Homo sapiens: one gene and its partner. Changing the gene in region 2 together with the main gene of any one other region gives a genetic interaction. Each region holds a gene or a part of one and is shown on either strand. Other genes may lie near its edges. The genes, in order: CAMK2B and CD22.

Region 1 (3,807 bases), on a different chromosome or scaffold from region 2:
ATCCCCCAGAAAAAAAATCCCCAAATTATCCCAGACAGGCAGCTCCGTGGAGGTGACAAGGTGAGAGGGAGAGGAGGGGAGGAGGCCCCAGGACGCCAGGGTGGCCGGCTGCTGGGCCACGTGCTGTCCGTGGTGAGCCCTGCCGCTGTCCCATGGCCCAGGGAGCCACTGGTGCGGAGCCCGGCAGATGTTTACCCTGTGTTCATGGATGGGGACAGCTGTCCTGGGCACAGCGTGGACGGAAGATGGTGTCCACTCTGAGTGTTCATCGGTGGACAGTCCCCTTGGAGTTTAGGATCCTGTGTCCTGTTCCCCATTCTGTGCCCCTCCCTTGGCTTGATTTGTAGGGGAAGATAAAGAAAATCCTTGTTGAAAACAATGTGAATTGAAAGTGGGCAGGCACTGGGGCAGGAGCCCCTGACCCTCTGCAGTCAGGGCTTGTGACCACCCCCACCCAACCTGGCTTCAGACCCACCCTGCAGCCCCACCATGCTCGGGCTTGCCCTGTCCCCGAGCTCCCCCATGGTACACACCATCACAAGGGGCCGGGGACCCACCGCCTCGAACCCAGGCAGCCGACGCTCAGGAGCACAGGGCTAGACCCTGCCCTCCATCCGCTGGTGTCCTGGGCCCTGTGCCCACCTGTTTCTGTCCCCAGCCCGCCTTATCTCCATAGCTGCATCCCTGGCCCACCTAGAAGGTGCCCTCACACGCACTGCAGCCCGCCAAGGCACTGGCACACCTGACACTGCACGGGCAGCACTGCCCTCACGCCTCCCATGTGCCCTAGGCTGGCTCCCACTGTAGCTTTTGCTCCCTTCTGCTCCCGGCCCAGATTCCAAAGGCACTCCCACTTCAGTAAACCCCTGCACAGACCCTTGTCTCAGCCCAGAAGCTGGGCAGCCACCACCTCTGATCCCGCTCTGCCACTAGCTGCACCACCCGACCAAACCCCAAGCCCCAGGCTTCCCCAAACCCCATCAGCAGACGAATATGCCCAGACACAAAGCCTGGCCTCCCCTCCCAGCTTCAGCTGGGGGCTCAGGGACTTGAGCGAGGCCCGCAGTCCTTTGTCAAAAGTCTGCTCCCCCTTGCGGGCTGCAGAGAAGCCGAACAGGCTGGGGGAGGGCCGAGGGGCGGAAACAGGGTTGGGAGCTGCCAGTGCATCTGCTGCTGGCCAGCAGAGAAGGGACAGACACCTCACACAGGAGGGGGGCCAGCCCAGGCAGAGTCCTCTTGCCACAGCTGGCTGTGTTGGAGCTGTAGCCAGCAGTGCTGTCTCTTGCTCGGCGAGAGGCCCAAAACTAAGCTGTGCCCCTCTTTGCACTTTACTCCCCCAGAAGGACCAGAGCTGGAGCCCTGGGTGTGTAGGGGCATCTCTGAAGGCCTTGGGGACGGGACTCCAGTTTCAATACTCCAGGGGGTGAGGGGCCGGCCTGGGCTCTGCCGAAGGGTTGTCCGTGCTGGGTGTGTGGGGATACCGGGCACGGAAAACCCACACCTAGCCCTTCAGGGGATGAAAGGAAGGGAAGGGAAAGCAGGAACAACAGCAACTCTCAGGCACAACTAGCGGGAAAGGAGGCAGCCCAGCGGGCCCCCACAGCCCCTCCCAAGAGACAGCTGACAGTCACGACAGCCAGCGAGCACACCACGTGGAGCCCATGCGTTGGCAGGAGGATGCAGACACCTTAGGTGTGGGGTGTGTGCGTTACCTACAAACTAACACCGTTCAGCACGCGACGGGGGCCTGGCAGACAAGTTCATGTCCCAGCTGGTCCCCCAGAGGCCAGGAGCACAGACGGACACACGTGGAGCTTGGGTGGGGAGTGGCCCCACGAATGCCAGTGATTTTTACAGCTTTTTCCTTCCTTTAGTTTTTTTTGTTTTTTTTTTTTTTCATTTCATCTGATGTCAATTTTTTTTGTGGTTGTCGTCGTCATCTTGTTTTTTTTTTTTTTTTTTTTGTTTTTTTTTAACAAATCACATCTGGTCTTGTTTTTCTGCAGACACAGGCACCAGGGGAGGGAACGAGGCAGACACAAACATGCGACAGGCAGGCCGTGTGCCCGAGGGCAGTCGGGCTCCAAACACCAACTCTGTCCGGCGAAACCAGGGCGCAGCTCTGAAATGGGGCGGGTGGGTCAGCTCCTCAGCAGCCCCCTCTCCCATCCACCCCCAGGCTCTGCTGTCTGCCATGCGGCACTGCAGAGAGGGTTAAAGTCCAGAAAAGGGCCCACTCGGGAGAGAGGTTCAAGGTGCCCAACCCAATTACTACTATCCCTGTAAAACTGGGCTCTGGGCCCGCTGCACCCACCACCTGGGGAACGCCCATCTGGGGCTCTAACAGTCCTCACAAACAGGGCATGGTGCCCAGGACTGTGCTGCCCGGGGCCCATCCACCTGCAACCCACCCAGCTCTGGCCAGTGTGGACTGCTCAGGCCCTCACCAGCTCCCCAGTCCTCTGGGGAGGCCTGCCACACCCAGCCTGCCGTGGTCCCTAATTTGACATCATTCCTGTGGCCTCACCAGGAAAGCTCAGGGACTTCCCAGGCATGGCTCTGCACAGGCCCCACCGCTCCCCATCGCCTCCCCAGGCTGCAGCCACTCACACCACCGCCACCCCTCTGCCCCAGCTGTCACTTAGCACAGAACACTCACCTTCACTGCAGCGGGGCCACAGGCGCGCCCGAGCAGTGGAAGTGCACGTTCTGCCACTTGCCGTCGCGGCGGTGCCACACGCGGGTCTCCTCAGACTGGCTGGTGCGGGGCCGGCCCTGCCCGTCAATGTACTGCGTGAGCCGGATGTAAGCGATGCAGGCGGCATCCTCTCCAATGACGTGCACGTGTGGGTTCAGGATGGTCGTGTGGATCGGCTTGCTGTTCTTGGCCAGCACTGTGGACAGCAGGCGGGGCGGGGGTCTCGGGTTACCATGACTGCCCTGGTGCCCGTCTTCCACCCCACCAGCCTAATCCTTTCCCTCTCTCAACTCCCCTTATTGGGGAGGCTCGGCTCTCCTGGGAGCAGCATGGGCCCCTCCAAGAGTGGGATTCTGGGGGCTGGGTATGGCCTCTGGCGGGGGAGAGGTGGCTGGCCAACCCTGGGCACAGAGGGGACAGGGCTTCCATAGGCAGCCACCATGCTGTCCCTGGGAGGGGCCGAGAGGCTCTCCTGGGGGCACCGCCCCCTCATGCCCACCCGGGCTTCCTCACTCACGGTTCTCGAAGTAGAATCTGTGGAAGTCCATCCCTTCAACCAGGTTGCCCAGTGCTTCAGGCTCAAACGAGGTCAGCCCTGGGTCACAGATTTTCCTGGGGGCCAAATCCAAGTGAGGAGGGGCCCCGTGGACCCCTGACTCTGAGCAGGCCCCCCCAAGGGTCCCACATCCTTGTCCTGCACAGCCCCCCCCCAGCCCCAGGGACTCACGCGTAGGCCTCAAAGTCACCGTTGTTGACGGCCTCGATGAGCTGCTCCGTGGTCTTAATGATCTCCTGCTTCCGGGCTGTGGGGAGACATGGCCAGGTGACCACTGGGCGCTGGCCCATTCCCCCCGGACCCCTCCACACAGCCCAGGGGAGGGCCTGGGGGAGCGCGAGCTGCATCCATGCCGTGTTCCTGCCGCTATTTGCAGAAGAGGTCCTCTCCGCCGCCCCCCCTGCATCACCAGTGGCTTCCTCATTTTCAAGTGCAACAGCTTCCATCTTATTTTTCTTAACTAAAGTATTTTTGAAGAACAGAAATATTCTATCCACATTACAAAATGCCTGGAAAATGCAGAAAGAGGACAAAAAACCCACCCACAATCCAC
Region 2 (3,807 bases):
GTTCAAGTGATCCTCCTGCCTCAGCCTCCCGAGTAGCTGGGATTACAGGTGCCCACCACCACACCCAGCTAATTTTTCTGTATTTCTAGTAGAGACAGGGTTTCGCCATGTTGGCCAGGCTGGTCTTGAACTCCTGACCTCAAGTGATCCTCCCGCCTTGGCCTCCCAAAGTGCTGGGATTACAGGTGTAAGCCACCACACCCGGCCTCTTTTTTTCTTTAGAGACAGGGTCTTGCTTTGTCACCCAGGCTGGAGTGCAGTGGCGCAATCCTAGCTCACTGTAGCCTCAACCTCCTAGGCTCAAGCAATCCTCTCACCTCAGCCCCCTGAGTAACTGGGACTACAGGCATGTGCCACCACACCTAGCTAGTTTTTTAAACATTTTGTAGAGACAGGGTCTTGCCATGTTACCCAGGCTGGTCTCAAACTCCTGGGCTCAAACGATCCTCCGATCTCAGCCTCCCAAAGTGCTGGGGTTACAGGCGGGAACCACTGCACCCAACGCAGTCCTGCTTTTCTCCACTTTGAATCACTTTTGCTCACCCGAAATCCCCTCTGAAAGGCCTTGACCACACTAAGCCTCCTTGGGAACTGTGATCTACTTTTCTTTCATGCTCATTGCCGGATGTCTGCTTTCTGAATGATTGCAAAGTTCTATTCCCACCACCTCACCACCTCTTTTTTTTTTTTTTTTTTTTTTGAGACAGAGTCTCGCTCTGTCGCCCGGACTGGAGTGTAGTGGCGTGATCTCAGCTCACTGCAAGCTCCACCTTCCGGGTTCACGCCATTCTCCTGCCTCAGCCTCCTGAGTAGCTGGGACTACAGGCGCCTGCCACCACGCCTGGCTAACTTTTTGCATTTTTAGTAGAGACAGGGTTTCACTGTGTTAGTCAGGATGGTCTCGATCTCCTGACCTTGTGATCCGCCTGCCTCGGCCTCCCAAAGTTCTGGGATTACAGGCGTGAGCCACCGTGCCCGGCCTATTCCCACCACCTCTAAGTGAATTTTATCAGTTTAGTTCACGGACTTTTCAGCTTTGACAAACTTGTGTTACTTTCATGGCTTCCTTCAGTATTGCAGCCATCCACGCACCGCATTCCTTTAGTGGAGTGGGTCTGTGTGCACCCAGCCTCAGCTCTCCCCAAGGCTGGACCACCTCCTTCAGACAGCGGGGTCTGAAGTTGCATTGCTCACCCCAAATTTAAGGCTGCTCAGAACTGCCCATCCGGGAAACGGTGTGGAACGGAGTGACCACACTCCCTGTGGCAGGGGCCCCCCACACCTGTGTTTGATGGGTCAAAGCCACCCCTACATGTGCAGTGCTATAACTGAACCTATGTTATAAAAATTATAAGATGTTCGTTTTACTTCTTTTCTTTTCTCTTTGTCCTTTCCTTCCTCCATGCATGATTAGTTACATTTGGTCATTTCAGTAGCAGGTAACCATTAATTCACTCATAATTGTTTAACTTACATCCTGACTCCCTGGCAGCTGCCTGCAAGATAAATGAACTTGTCTCTCTTTCAAAGAACAATGATCCTTAGGTCACACAGACCTCCTTGATGACATCCAGAAATTTGATGAGCCGAGGGGCACAACAGCTTTGACGATCGGGAGGTCACCTCCTGCACACCTACTTTACTCATAAAAGCCCCCACTAACGCTCAAAGTCAGGTCAGATTTGAGAGTTTCTCTCTTCTGTCCCCTTGCTTTGGCTAAATTAAATAATCCTATCTCAGCTTCTAAGCACTGAGGTGTCAGTGTTTGGCTGACTACGCATCGGGAGCTCAAACCTGGCCTTTGGGGTTCAACAACAGTGTCATCTGACCTTGAAGAGCTCATGAGAACTTGCCATGAACATTAACATGCTGGGAGATTTCACTGGAAAATCTAGATTTCCATCGTCTCTTGAAAAATCAGAAGATCAGGCCGGGTGCGGTGACTCATGCCTGTAATCCTAATGCTTTGAGAGGTTGAAGCAGGAGGATTGCTTGAGGCCAGGAGTTCAAGACCAGCCTGGCAACATAGCAAGACCCATTTCTACAACAAATTAAAAAGTTAGCTGGGCATGGTGGCATGCACCTGTGATCCTAGCTACTTTGGAGGTGGGAGGATTGCTTGAACCCGGGAGATCAAGGCTGCAGTGAGCTGAGATCGCGCCACTGCACTCCAGCCTGGGTGATGACAGTGCGAGACCCTGTCTCATAAAAAGGGAAAGGAAGGGGAAGGGGAAAAGAAGAGGAAAAAAAGTAAAACAAACATTTTATGATTTTTATAACACAGGCTCAGTTATGGCACTGCACATGTAGGGGTGGATTTGACCCATCAAACACAGGTCTGGGGCCTCTGCCCTAGGGAGTGTGGTTACTCCGTTCCACACCCAGTTTCCTCTATAGGGAGCTCTGAGCAGCCCTAAGTTTGGGGTGAGCGATGCAGCTTCAGACCCCAATGTCTGAAGGGGGCGGTCCAGCCTGGGGGAGAGCTGAGGCTGGTTACATGCAGACCCACCCCACTAAAGGAATGCGGTGCTTGGATGGTTCCAGTACTAAGGCCAAACACGAGTTTGTCACAAAAGCTGAAAAATACATGGTGAGAAAGAAAGAGGGAAAGATCAGGAGATCCGATAACTTTGGAATCCAGGTCCCAGAGGGGCAGGAACTGAGGGTCAGATGGGACATCCGAGGTCCCGCAGCTCTGTCTAGTGCTGCTGCATCGCCATCGTCATCCGCTGGCGTCCCCTGCCTGAGCTCTGCAGGAAGCTCGGTTTGTGAGCTCTGTGCCAGGAGTCAGGTATTTCCTGCCTCCCACTCACCCCTGCCCAGAGCAGAGGACCCGCTCCCCGAAGGCCTTACCAGAGACATTGAGGTGTATTCGTTCCATCCATTTCTCAGTCTTGGACTCCATCCTCAGCCCCAGCTGACCACTGTCATTGAGGTGCACCGGGTGGATACTCAGTGTGCAGTTCTTATTCTTGTCTCCCAGGAATTGCACCCTTTTCTGCTCAGAAGGAACCTTCCCATCCTTTGTGCTTTCATAGAGTCTTGTCCCATCAAACTTCGAGGTGTTCTTGTTATACTCAGGATTGTGGAACAGGATGAAGCTTTCCAGGTCACCATCTAGGGCTCTGTAGGTGCAGGGGATCCAGACGCAGGCCCCCTCCCAGGCGTAGAGGGTTTCAGGGTGCTCAAAAACCCATTTACTTGAGTCAGAGAAAGCCAAGTATTCTAGAACTCACCACAGTGATCAGAAAGCATTACTAAGGGGGCATGAGAGCCTTCTTTTAAAAGTTATTTTTTATTTTAAAATTTGTTTAATTTTTTATTCTTTTTAGAGATAGGGGTCTTGCTATGTTGTCCAAGCTGGCCTTGAACTCCTGACCTCAAGTGATCCTCCCACCTCAGCCTCACAAAGTGCTGAGATTTCAGGCATGAGCCACTGCACCCAGCAGAGAGCTTTCTAAAGACTAAAGAATTCCCTCTGAAGATAGTGGGAGAAATACAGAGATACACAAAGACAGCAGGATGCAATGAGAGAAGTGTATGTATATATGGGAAACATATATATTTGTATGTACATTTATCTATACACACCGCTGCCCCCACCCTACCCTATGTTGACGCCTCTCTGCCTGGGTCTTTCCTCCTCCTCCAGTGCCCACTGACATCCCAGAACCCCAGTACTAGCCCAGGCCACAGTCCTTACCCAGGAGCAGGAGCCAGGGGCCGAGGAGATGCATGGTGTCGTGTCTGGGTGCAAGCCTGAGCAGGGGAGAGTTTGTCTTTGAGCCATCTGGCCGCTTACTTCTT

What was found.
Region 1: changes in CD22 (region 2) and CAMK2B together harm fitness more than expected from each alone (negative genetic interaction), as found in Homo sapiens cells (one large-scale study listed by BioGRID).

Annotation. Positions count from the first base shown.
Region 1 is NC_000007.14:44,217,401-44,221,207, forward strand, and holds part of CAMK2B (calcium/calmodulin-dependent protein kinase type II subunit beta), read right to left. Parts: intron 3,502-3,807; coding exon 3,426-3,501; coding exon of another isoform or gene 3,422-3,425; intron 3,311-3,421; coding exon 3,216-3,310; intron 2,895-3,215; coding exon 2,662-2,894; 3' UTR 2,660-2,661; intron 2,123-2,659; 3' UTR 1-2,122. UniProt on the Homo sapiens protein: Calcium/calmodulin-dependent protein kinase that functions autonomously after Ca(2+)/calmodulin-binding and autophosphorylation, and is involved in dendritic spine and synapse formation, neuronal plasticity and regulation of sarcoplasmic reticulum Ca(2+) transport in skeletal muscle.
Region 2 is NC_000019.10:35,331,971-35,335,777, reverse strand, and holds part of CD22 (B-cell receptor CD22 isoform 1 precursor), read right to left. Parts: intron 3,760-3,807; 5' UTR 3,738-3,759; coding exon 3,704-3,737; intron 3,232-3,703; coding exon 2,854-3,231; intron 1-2,853. UniProt on the Homo sapiens protein: Most highly expressed siglec (sialic acid-binding immunoglobulin-like lectin) on B-cells that plays a role in various aspects of B-cell biology including differentiation, antigen presentation, and trafficking to bone marrow.